Linked DNA regions of Homo sapiens. The protein of the gene in region 1 interacts with the protein of each later gene in a pairwise test. Each region holds a gene or a part of one and is shown in the gene's direction. Other genes may lie near its edges.

What was found. Proteins that work in one complex are often made in the same cells at the same time.
Region 2: the proteins of SLC31A2 (region 1) and OPRL1 interact in a two-hybrid assay, tested with the Homo sapiens proteins (one large-scale study listed by BioGRID and IntAct).
Region 3: the proteins of SLC31A2 (region 1) and HTR2B interact in a two-hybrid assay, tested with the Homo sapiens proteins (one large-scale study listed by BioGRID and IntAct).

What each region holds. Positions count from the first base shown.
Region 1 is NC_000009.12:113,149,662-113,153,806, forward strand, and holds the start of SLC31A2 (protein SLC31A2), read left to right. Parts: upstream 1-1,345; 5' UTR 1,346-1,413; coding exon 1,414-1,419; intron 1,420-4,145. UniProt on the Homo sapiens protein: Does not function as a copper(1+) importer in vivo. However, in vitro functions as a low-affinity copper(1+) importer.
Region 2 is NC_000020.11:64,097,082-64,101,133, forward strand, and holds the end of OPRL1 (nociceptin receptor), read left to right. Parts: intron 1-720; coding exon 721-1,076; intron 1,077-1,194; coding exon 1,195-1,718; coding exon of another isoform or gene 1,719-1,805; 3' UTR 1,806-3,552; downstream 3,553-4,052.
Region 3 is NC_000002.12:231,111,543-231,115,042, reverse strand, and holds part of HTR2B (5-hydroxytryptamine receptor 2B), read left to right. Parts: intron 1-1,113; coding exon 1,114-1,314; intron 1,315-3,500. UniProt on the Homo sapiens protein: G-protein coupled receptor for 5-hydroxytryptamine (serotonin). Also functions as a receptor for various ergot alkaloid derivatives and psychoactive substances.

The sequences.
Region 1 (4,145 bases):
CCAGCCCCATCACAGTGCCACGGCCCATGTTCTCTCCCTGAAGCTGCTCCATTAGCTTTCAGACTGAGAATCTTAAAAGCTGTGTGGGCCGGGCAAGATGGCTCACGTCTGTAATCCCAGCATCCCAGCACTTTGGGAGGCCGAGGCGGGCAGATTACGAGGTCAGGATTTCAAGACCAGCCTGACCAATATGGTGAAACCCCGTCTCTACTAACAATACAAAAATTAACCAGGCATGGTGGTGCGCGCCTGTAGTCCCAGCTACTCGGGAGCCTGAGGCAGGAGAATTGCTTGAACACGGGAGATGGAGGTTGCAGTGAGCCAAGATCGCGCCACTGCACTACAGCCTGGGCGACAGAGCGAGACTCTGTTTCAAAGAAAAGAAAAAAAGCTGTGTGACCCTGAGGATTCTACCATTTACTGAACAAGCTCCCACTGCCAGGTTACATGATAATTTAACATGTATGTTTTCATTTAATCCCTATGACATAGATTTTATTATTATTTTCATTTTACTGACCAGAAAACTGAGGTTCAGAGATGTAAGCTATTTGCCTACGGTCCCAAAGCCAATAGTTGATGCGTATGGATGTGAACTGAGGTTAGCTCCAGGCTCAAGGTCTCTGCTAATACTGTCCTTAGTAAGGTTTCTCTGAAGAGCCTCTTTACTCATAGGCTGATTAGCAAAGGGTTCCTAAATATGCTTAAGAATCAATAACCATTAAAAATCCCTCACCCTACAAGAAACTCCCCATCAAAAAACTGGATCAGTGAAATGAACAGGCAATACACAGAAATGGAAGTACCCGTAAGAAAAATAGTTTACTACCCTAGTAATCAAAGAAAAACAAAATTACACGGGTGTATTCCTTTTGGCTTATCAGATTGGAAAATATTTTTCTAAAAAGAAAAATGTAATTATCTTGTAATGACTACACTAAAAATCTAGGGCATAATTGACTTAATTTACTCCAAATGTGTTGCTATTGCGTCCATAGCACGGACTTGCCCATTTCAACTCAATATATGTTACGCTTGGGGTAGTTTATTACAATGAGCAATAAACATTCTCATAATCGCCAAGACAAGCCAAGTGCAAAACAGGAAGGGCGAAGACAGAGGGCAGCAGGTGGTCCCTCTCGCTCGCGACTCCGGGAACGCCAAGCCTCAGCCCTTGGGAACCTGGGGCGAGGCGCCTGGGTCTCGGCCAGGGGGCGCGCCCGAGGACGCCGAAGTAGGGCGCGTGTGGGGACCACAACTCCCAGGCGCCCGCGCGCCGCCTCGCCCGGACCACGTGATCCGTGCGGCCAGGGTAGCTATCGCGGCGGCGGCGGCGGCGGCGGTTGAACTGACTCGGAGCGAGGAGACCCGAGCGAGCAGACGCGGCCCTGGCGCCCGCCCTGCGCACTCACCATGGCGGTAAGGGCCGGGCGCTACGGTGAAGAGGGTGGGCGGTTGGGGCGGGGTCTCCTGGAGCTGCCATCTCGGCACCCCGAATCCTCGCTGCCGCTGGCCCGGGGCTGGTGAAGGGTGTGTTGGCAGCATTGCCAACAGCTGGAACAGGGTTGGGGGACGCGGCAGGTATAGGTTGCGGTGGCTCTGTGGTTTTCCTCTTTATTTGTCCCTCCTGCTGGGAGGCAGTCCGGCTAGGCGAGCAGTTACCGAGCGCCCGCGGTGGCGCGGCTTGAGAGTGGGGGCGCGGTGGCTGAAGACAGCTGGGTCCGGGGCCCCCGGCCCCGGACCTCTGGCCGGCGCCCCAGGGCGGAGAGCAGCGCCTTGGGAGATTCCAGGAAGGCTTCCACGAAAGGGAAACCCCCGGCGCATTTCAGCCCGCAGCCCCGCGCGCACACCGAGCGCACATCCCCGGCCCTGCTCTTGTCAAGTTTGTAGCCTGATTCTTCGGGGAATAAAACAGAACCAGCTACTTTCCAGCTTCCCTACACTTTCAGTCAGAAAACAGCGTTTCAGACAAGCTGTTTTTCTTGGTAGGGTTCACCTGGGCTGGAGAGAACGACAGCTTGCAAGACTCGTTCGTCTTTGAAGAAGTCATATCATTTTCTTCATCCCATGAAGAATGTCATAGAATTTAAGATACAGGAAGCTCAGCCTGGGCAACATAGCTAGACCCCGTCTCTACAAAAATTAGCCACAAGTGGTGGCAGGCGCCTGTAATCCCAGCTACTCGGAGGCTGAGGCAGGATGAGGAGGATTGCTTGAGCCCAGAAGTTCCAGGCTGCAGTGAGCCATGACCTTCGGCCTGGGCAACAGAACAAGACGTCCTCAAACAAACAAAACAAAAAAAAAAAGATATAGGAAGTGTATGTAGGCCATTTAGTGAAATGATCAGCCGTCCTTTAAAAAGGGAAATAGATGGAAAGCACTTGCAAAAGTTCCCCAGCCAGTCAGCCTAGCAACTGGGACCTTCATCTCCTTCCCAACCCTTGTTTACAAATAAGGAAGCTTTTCTCAAAGTGTAAGTAACCCCAAATGAAGAAATATAGAAGAAAACAAGTTCCAGGGATTGCTCCCTCCTTCACCACAGCCCCACCCTGAAAAAAGCACAAATCAGTTAAACTTTCAGAGGCCAAGATTCATCCCAAGTAGGAAAACAAGATTGGGGCCCTGCCCCTTGCCTATCTGACCACAAAGCCCTTTAATTGAAAACTGTAGCCCAGATCGCTTCTCTCAAGTCAGGGTGTGCTGACTTCCATCTTTTCCTCTAGCAAAAAGGCAAAAGTAGAAAGGGTTGAGTGACAGGTGAGTCTTCGTCCCTCTGGGGCTTCGGACTCCGTGGGTGTTTCCAGCTCTGAACAAACCATACAGTTCATCTTCCCAGCTATCTCCTGCTTCTCTGGCTTCAGAACCATCCTAGCCAACTGCTCTCTGGCCAGGGCAGGTGTCTCTCAGGCGGCTTGGTCCCCAGCACCCCCAGGGAGCCTCCACTGTGCCTCCCTTTCTCTGACCTACAACCTGTTGTAATTATTTGCTCACTTAAATGTCCCCCCTCATAGACAGGTAGCTCCCTAAGGGCCAAAGACTTGTCCCATTCATCTCTGTATCGCCAGGGTCTGCACAGACCTAGCACAACAAAAAGAAATCTTTCAAATTACTCTTACTGTTCTGTGGGTGTTCAGGTCTATGGCAAAACATGTCTGGGCTGTTTTGGGCTCCTAAGATAACTGGCCCAGGCCCAAGGATGATAGAAGGAAACCAGTTATGGCAACTCCCTGACTGATTAATTAGCCACTAGGGACATTCCATTCATACCATCTGCTTTACCAAATGGACTCAGAGAAGGGGTGATGGGTGTCACCCCTACCTCTACCTGGCAGAGATGGTGCTAGAGGCTTCTGCTGAGGATGAGGCCATCTCCGGTGTAAATGGAGTTTCACAGTATTGTTTGTACCTGTTTGGTTTTGTATATCAATCTTGCGTAAACATTTTGCTGTGTCAAAATGTTTTTTTTTTTTTTGAAAGCCTAACAGGAGAGATCTCTGAGTAGTAAGACTCAAAATGATTTTTTACTTTCTTTTCGGTACTGTGTCAGCTTTTTACATTGAGCTAGTGCCATTGGGGGTGGGGGGTAAAAGCTATTCTTATTTTTAAACTCTTCAACATTTTTTAAAGTCTTCAACATGATCTTTATCATGTTGTGATGTGACCGCCTAGATTTCCATTTTGAAGCTCTCATATAATTTACTTGACCAGTCCCTACTGGTTGACAGGAGACCATCATGGTTCCTATGATTTCTCAAAGTGTGACCCCCAACAAACACCTGTCCTAGAAACACCTGTCCCAGAAACACCCAGTACACTAAGGTTTGAGAACCAGTACAGGCTTTCCAGAAAACTCTCTGGCTCTGGGTACCTGATTGCCGAGTGACCATGGGGAGATAAGTGGGCTTTTATGTACCTTCCTTGTTAAAGAGGTTAATAATAGTAGGCACCTGCGGAGATGTCACAGGGAGTGACACATAATAAATGGAAGGTGAACGTGGTACAGGCACATGCAGTCCCTCAGAAGACACAGAGCTGTGTGGCTGTTCTGTCCAATCAGATGCTTTCACATTTCTTTCTCTGTCCTGCAGCTCCACGGTCTCCAGTGAGCCCAGTCCCTGGGTAGGCGCAGGCAGGGGTTGGTGACA
Region 2 (4,052 bases), on another chromosome or scaffold:
CAGTCATCACCATCACCACCATGATCACTGCCATCATCACCACCACCATCACCACCATAATCCCCCCCAACTATTACAACCATTAACTTATTTAACAAAAATTTATTAATCACCAACGATTTTCCCAGCCCTTTCCAGCACCATTTCAGGTGCTTGGATACACTCATACCTTATTAGCATCCCTCCTGTCCCCCCGTCACCATTTTCGGTCTCCATTGCTAGGCAGCAGTGTGGACTTGGAAGCCTTTTGATATGTTCTTACAGATTCTGGAGCCCTCAGAAACCTCTGGCAACTGTAGGGTCAGCATTTGAGTCTGTGAGGGGTCATGGAGGGGACTCAAAAGCAAGGGGAGCAGACTCTTTCCCTTAGGGCTCTAAACCTTTGCTCCTGTGCAGAATCCGGGGTGTGTTCTGGTAGCCTACATGCCCTGACTCCTCTAAAGTAGACCTGTGTTTAAGGCTTGGAATCCTTCTGTGTGTGTCAGAGTCACTTGAGGAGCTGGTTAAGACGTTTGACCCCAGGCCCTACCCCCTGAGACTGACTCATGAGTCTCAGGTTGGGTCCAGGAGCTATCACTTACCAAGCCCCCATGGGAACTCTGATGTTAAGGGACTCAGGGCCACTGTAGCTTGTGGTGGCCAAGAGGAGCCCCTTGCCCTTTGCTGCCTGGTCCAGCCAGCATGGCCAAGTGAAGCCTTTCTTCTCCCTCTACTCCGCAGGCACACCAAAATGAAGACAGCCACCAATATTTACATCTTTAACCTGGCCCTGGCCGACACTCTGGTCCTGCTGACGCTGCCCTTCCAGGGCACGGACATCCTCCTGGGCTTCTGGCCGTTTGGGAATGCGCTGTGCAAGACAGTCATTGCCATTGACTACTACAACATGTTCACCAGCACCTTCACCCTAACTGCCATGAGTGTGGATCGCTATGTAGCCATCTGCCACCCCATCCGTGCCCTCGACGTCCGCACGTCCAGCAAAGCCCAGGCTGTCAATGTGGCCATCTGGGCCCTGGCCTCTGTTGTCGGTGTTCCCGTTGCCATCATGGGCTCGGCACAGGTCGAGGATGAAGGTCAGTGGGGTGTCCCCTCCTCCCCTCACCAGGCTCCCTGGCTCCCGGGTGGCTCCTCTGGGCCCACGTGCCCTCCACGTCTCCTGGGCCCACTCTGACCCCGTTTCTCTCCCTGCAGAGATCGAGTGCCTGGTGGAGATCCCTACCCCTCAGGATTACTGGGGCCCGGTGTTTGCCATCTGCATCTTCCTCTTCTCCTTCATCGTCCCCGTGCTCGTCATCTCTGTCTGCTACAGCCTCATGATCCGGCGGCTCCGTGGAGTCCGCCTGCTCTCGGGCTCCCGAGAGAAGGACCGGAACCTGCGGCGCATCACTCGGCTGGTGCTGGTGGTAGTGGCTGTGTTCGTGGGCTGCTGGACGCCTGTCCAGGTCTTCGTGCTGGCCCAAGGGCTGGGGGTTCAGCCGAGCAGCGAGACTGCCGTGGCCATTCTGCGCTTCTGCACGGCCCTGGGCTACGTCAACAGCTGCCTCAACCCCATCCTCTACGCCTTCCTGGATGAGAACTTCAAGGCCTGCTTCCGCAAGTTCTGCTGTGCATCTGCCCTGCGCCGGGACGTGCAGGTGTCTGACCGCGTGCGCAGCATTGCCAAGGACGTGGCCCTGGCCTGCAAGACCTCTGAGACGGTACCGCGGCCCGCATGACTAGGCGTGGACCTGCCCATGGTGCCTGTCAGCCCGCAGAGCCCATCTACGCCCAACACAGAGCTCACACAGGTCACTGCTCTCTAGGCGGACACACCCTGGGCCCTGAGCATCCAGAGCCTGGGATGGGCTTTTCCCTGTGGGCCAGGGATGCTCGGTCCCAGAGGAGGACCTAGTGACATCATGGGACAGGTCAAAGCATTAGGGCCACCTCCATGGCCCCAGACAGACTAAAGCTGCCCTCCTGGTGCAGGGCCGAGGGGACACAAGGACCTACCTGGAAGCAGCTGACATGCTGGTGGACGGCCGTGACTGGAGCCCGTGCCCCTCCCTCCCCGTGCTTCATGTGACTCTTGGCCTCTCTGCTGCTGCGTTGGCAGAACCCTGGGTGGGCAGGCACCCGGAGGAGGAGCAGCAGCTGTGTCATCCTGTGCCCCCCATGTGCTGTGTGCTGTTTGCATGGCAGGGCTCCAGCTGCCTTCAGCCCTGTGACGTCTCCTCAGGGCAGCTGGACAGGCTTGGCACTGCCCGGGAAGTGCAGCAGGCAGCTTTTCTTTGGGGTGGGACTTGCCCTGAGCTTGGAGCTGCCACCTGGAGGACTTGCCTGTTCCGACTCCACCTGTGCAGCCGGGGCCACCCCAGGAGAAAGTGTCCAGGTGGGGGCTGGCAGTCCCTGGCTGCAGACCCCGAGCTGGCCCTGGGCCAGCCGCACCTCTGAAGGTTTTCTGTGTGCTGCACGGTGCAGGCCTCATCCCTGACTGCAGCTTGACTCTGGGCCCAACCCCCATTTCCCTTCAGGAGACCAGCGAGAGGCCCTGGCCCATTCCCTCCAGCGGTGCAATGAACTATCATGCTGTGGACCGTCAACCCAGCCCTGCTTCTCAGTGTGGGGCAGGTGTCTCAGGACGAAGGCGCCGCGTGACCACATGGGCAGCTCTGTTCACAAAGTGGAGGCCTCGTTTTCCTGGTCTTGACTGCTCTGTTTGGGTGGGAGAAGATTCTCTGGGGGTCCCCACATCCTCCCAAGGCTCCCCTCACAGCCTCTCCTTTGCTTGAAGCCAGAGGTCAGTGGCCGTGCTGTGTTGCGGGGGAAGCTGTGTGGAAGGAGAAGCTGGTGGCCACAGCAGAGTCCTGCTCTGGGGACGCCTGCTTCATTTACAAGCCTCAAGATGGCTCTGTGTAGGGCCTGAGCTTGCTGCCCAACGGGAGGATGGCTTCACAGCAGAGCCAGCATGAGGGGTGGGGCCTGGCAGGGCTTGCTTGAGCCAAACTGCAAAGGCTGTGGTGGCTGTGAGGACACTGCGGGGGTTGGGGGGGGGGCGTCTGTACCTCAGGGGATGCCCCGCTGTGGTCACCCAGAGAATCACCCTTCCTGGTCTACAGATGGAAGCTGCAGGTTGGTGACTTTGCAAATGCACTTCCTACAGATGAACTATTAAAAGACCTGCAACATTGAAAAAACTCATTTTTTCCACCAAAACCTTGGCCAGGTAACCTACCTTAGGCACCTGCAAAGAACAGGAAGTGATGGCTGTCTCGCAACAGAGCCTGGGCTGCTCCTCCTGCTCTGGGGAGTCTAGGCCGTGGGGACTGTTCTGGGGAGGCTCATGCTGTCTCCATGACGTCTGTGGCAGGAGTCCCTGAGGACGGGAGCTGCCTAGCTACAGTTTTCTTGCCAAGGCGAGGTGTTTTGTGAATCTGTGCTGATGTAATGTGCACCTTCACGTATTTATGCATGTGGCAAGCGTTACTTCCTGTGCACGTAGCCAGCCCTGGGTCTGTCTCTGGGGTAATGAAAAAGGACCCTAATAAACACCTGCTCACTGGCTGGGTATTCTTTGTAACCAGTGTTTCTGGCTCCTGCCACCTGGGGATTTGCTTCTGGAGTGACTTTTCTGGGATTGGCACGTGGGTGGGAGGAGGCTATGGGTTTAGGCTGAATTCTTGTACCTGTCCTGTGCTGCTCAACAGGCTGGGCTCTGCCCTCAGTGAAACGTCCCCCAGGAGGCTGCAACCCTGGGGAGAGTTGAAGCCAGTTAATGGTGTGTTGGCCGGGCTGTTACCTTTTCTTCAGCACACACGGTTTCTCTCTAAACAACCGATGGCTGCACCTCTCCCCTGCCCCCTGGAAAGAGAGGTTTCCTGAGGATACAGTGGGAGGGTGCTGCTCCCACCCAGGTTGCAGGGTTTTCTTACCCCCATTTCATCTCAGAAGAACCCCTGCTCCTGCTCATTTCCCCTTCCTTGAGCAGATCTGAGGGGAGTTTTGGTGAAGGATGAGCAGACGGCCTCCTCTAGGGCTGGGTACACTCTTGCCATGGACATCTGCCTCCT
Region 3 (3,500 bases), on another chromosome or scaffold:
GATATACCTGCAATAGCCAGAAGAAAAGTAGATTACATTTTATCAGTGGACATATAACAATCAAATCCTAAAAGAGACTTAGATAATCTCACATGCATGACATCTGTTCTCTACAGGAGTTAAACTGGATTCTAATGGAAATATTCTAGGGGGAATTCTAAAATTTTAGTTGTTTTGAAACTGTAAACATGTTAAGTGGTGGGTGTAATATATAATGCATAATATATTAAATTCACATATGTATGAACATCTGTGTAAGTAAATTTATTAGAAAACTATGCAGAATATTCAATATCACATCCACACCTAAAATTTTTTTAAGGTTAATATTTCTAAAGTGCTTAAGACTATATGAAGTATGCAGTGTTTTATAAGAGTTTGTTAAATAAATTAAGTACTACGTCTAACCCTGAGATTTTCTTTTCAAATCAAAAGTCTGTACTAATTATTTTATCTCCAGTTTTTGGAGTGAATGATGAAATATAGAAGGGGAAACAATCTACTTTTCTTCCGGATAATCTGAAGCCATTCCTTTTGCAATCTTTATTTGAGAACTATTTCTGTCAAAAAAATCACTCCACTATTTCACCAAACTAGAGTATGCTATAAACAAGGATCTTGCTGCTAGTTATTGCTAGAAGTGAGCCCAAAACCCAGGTGTCACAGAGACTCCCATTCTAATACGCTTTTTGTCATACTGTTTCCTCTACATGGTAAAATGTTTTCTTTTTATACAACAGCTACTTAAAAATAAATTTTATTTAAATACCAAGGTTAAGTTCCAGTCACAATACTACATAAATTTTAAAAAGATCACAAATGGAATCGACAAAAGAGCAAAGGTCATAATAATGCTAAAAAGTTAAACTGCTGCTGACTTAGAAAAAAGGCACAATTATTATGCAAAATAGAAAATGTATTTAAAAGTTACCATCCACAGAAATATTGAATTTAATGTTGTCTCCATTATCTGAAGTTAAACATTATGTTGTTAAAGTTATAAAATTTCAGATGAGTAACAAAAAAGACAAAAGATGTATCACCTGAAAAACTGTAGACTGAAAGTTGCCATTTTATAGAATAAAATGTTTGTCTTGTTTTTGTTTCTTTCAGAGGCTATGTGGCCCCTCCCACTTGTTCTATGTCCTGCCTGGTTATTTCTTGACGTTCTCTTTTCAACCGCATCCATCATGCATCTCTGTGCCATTTCAGTGGATCGTTACATAGCCATCAAAAAGCCAATCCAGGCCAATCAATATAACTCACGGGCTACAGCATTCATCAAGATTACAGTGGTGTGGTTAATTTCAATAGGTATGTAGAGAATGCCAGAGTGTGGGTGGTATACAAAATCTTTGGTTCCACTTGGCTAGGAGAATACCAGGTCTGGTAGGCAATGAAACTCAGCATGAGAGGTCAAGCCAGCCTACTGATACATTAACATAAGCTCCTTATGTCACTGCATTTATCATACGCCTTCTAAAACATACTGTTGGTAAAAAGTGTGACAAGTAACAAAACTCATGTCCTCAGAAAGAACCATCTGCACAGTGTTTATTGAGATTTCTTTCTGCTTAGATTTCTATATGCAGAAAGGTTAAGTTTGAGAACAGTCTTCATATTTCCCAACAGATAATTATGGTCTAGCTAGCATTTGGAATCCTGTAATTACATTAAAATAACAAGAAATGCACCTTAAATCACATTTTAAAAGATTAATAAGAGAAAAAACAAAAATAACAACTCAAACATTTTGTGGGCAGGTATCAAAGAACACAAATTCATCTTGGAAGCCAACATTTCTGTACATATGTGTACAGATTAAAGGCAGTTAAGTGTCTGCTTCAGTGGGTTTTTTTGGTTTGTTTTTTCTTTTTTGGAGACAGGGTCTTGCTCTGTCACCCAGGCTAGAGTGCAATGGCACAATCATGGTTCACTGCTGCCTCGACTTCCCGGGCTCAAGCGATCCTCCCACCTCAGCCTCCCAGGTAGCTGGGACTACAGACACACCCCCCATGCCTGGCTAATTTTTGTATTTTTGGTAGAGGTGGGGTTTTGTCATGTTGCCCAGGCTGGTCTCAAACTCTTGAGCTCTGGCGATCCCCCTGCCCCAGCCTCCCAAAGTGCTGGGATTACAGGCGTGAGTCACTGCACTTAAGTGTTTTGAGTATGTTTAATTCAAAGTTTTAAGAGAGATGCAAAGAAAACATACCGATGTTCAGAAATTATGTATAAAAGAAATCCTTTTTCTTCTAAATCGTCTTACGGCCCTGTACTCATCTATAATACTCAAAGCTATACTTCTTATCATGAAGTATGCGTAAATCATTCAAAACTCTTATATGTTAGTATCAGAAAAACAAATAGATTTGCAAAAATTACAATGGTTTGACCAGCAGATTCTCTTCTTCCTTGTAAAAATATTTCAAAGAGGCAAAAAATTAAGAGACCTGGAATACTTAAATTACTCCTCCCTAATCTGAGTAGGGGCACTGGGGCAAAAACAGCAAGAAAGCAAAACAATGAGATTGACCTTCATATTCCTGAAATGATGATATAAGGGCTTGATCTCTTTGAAAAAGTTTGGAGGTAAAAGCAAGCTGTGTTACTCCTCTGGTATGGGAAGAAAACAGGGTCAAGAAAAAGTCTATTCAGAATGAAGAGATTTAAAAACAGTGAGAAAAGGCTAGATGAGGGGGCAGATGCCGACAGAGCAGAACCAGCCCCCCAAAAGCAGCTACAGAAAGGGAATGGGAGACAATGGGTGAAAATTAAAATTTGAAGTGCAGAGGAGGAAAACTATAATAAAGTCATTTATGCCAGATGACTCACATTTGGTAAGCTCACTGCAATGAGGGAGAGGGCAAGGGAGAGTGTGAGGTATGTGTATATTGGGGTGGGGTGGGAGAGTTGGACAGAGAAAGGGAAAAAAAGTTGAAGAAATGGATCCTTAAGAATAATTAAAATATTTGAAACTGTGAAATGTGATCAAGCTAATAAGGTAAGCAGCCTGCTGGTATAAATGGCATCTAGATTAAGGCTGGATACCATCAATTTATAAATTGACCACATTTTTATTGAGTGTTTATAATGTGCTAGGTACTAAGAATACACAGATGATCAAGAAAAAGAATCTTTGCATTCAAGAAAGGCGGACATATAAACAAATTACACTAACACAAAGTGATGAGTGATGCAGGAGAAAAAAGATTAAAAGGAAGACTCATGATATATAGATTTAGAAATCCACTTCTTCCTTTTGTAGGTAAGAAAAAAGAAACCTAGAGGTTTTAATCAGTTGGCTTAAGAACTCTTACAGCTTTTCAGCACCAAGGCCAAAATCAACGCTCTTTCACTTCATTGCACTTTGTCTTGTAGAACCGATCACAAATTAATAACTTTGAAAAAATGAAAATGCAGATGACAATAAGCTCAGTTCTGAAATTCTACAAAATGCTGAAGAGAGCTCACTCTCTTCTTTTGGATTTACAGTTATTCTA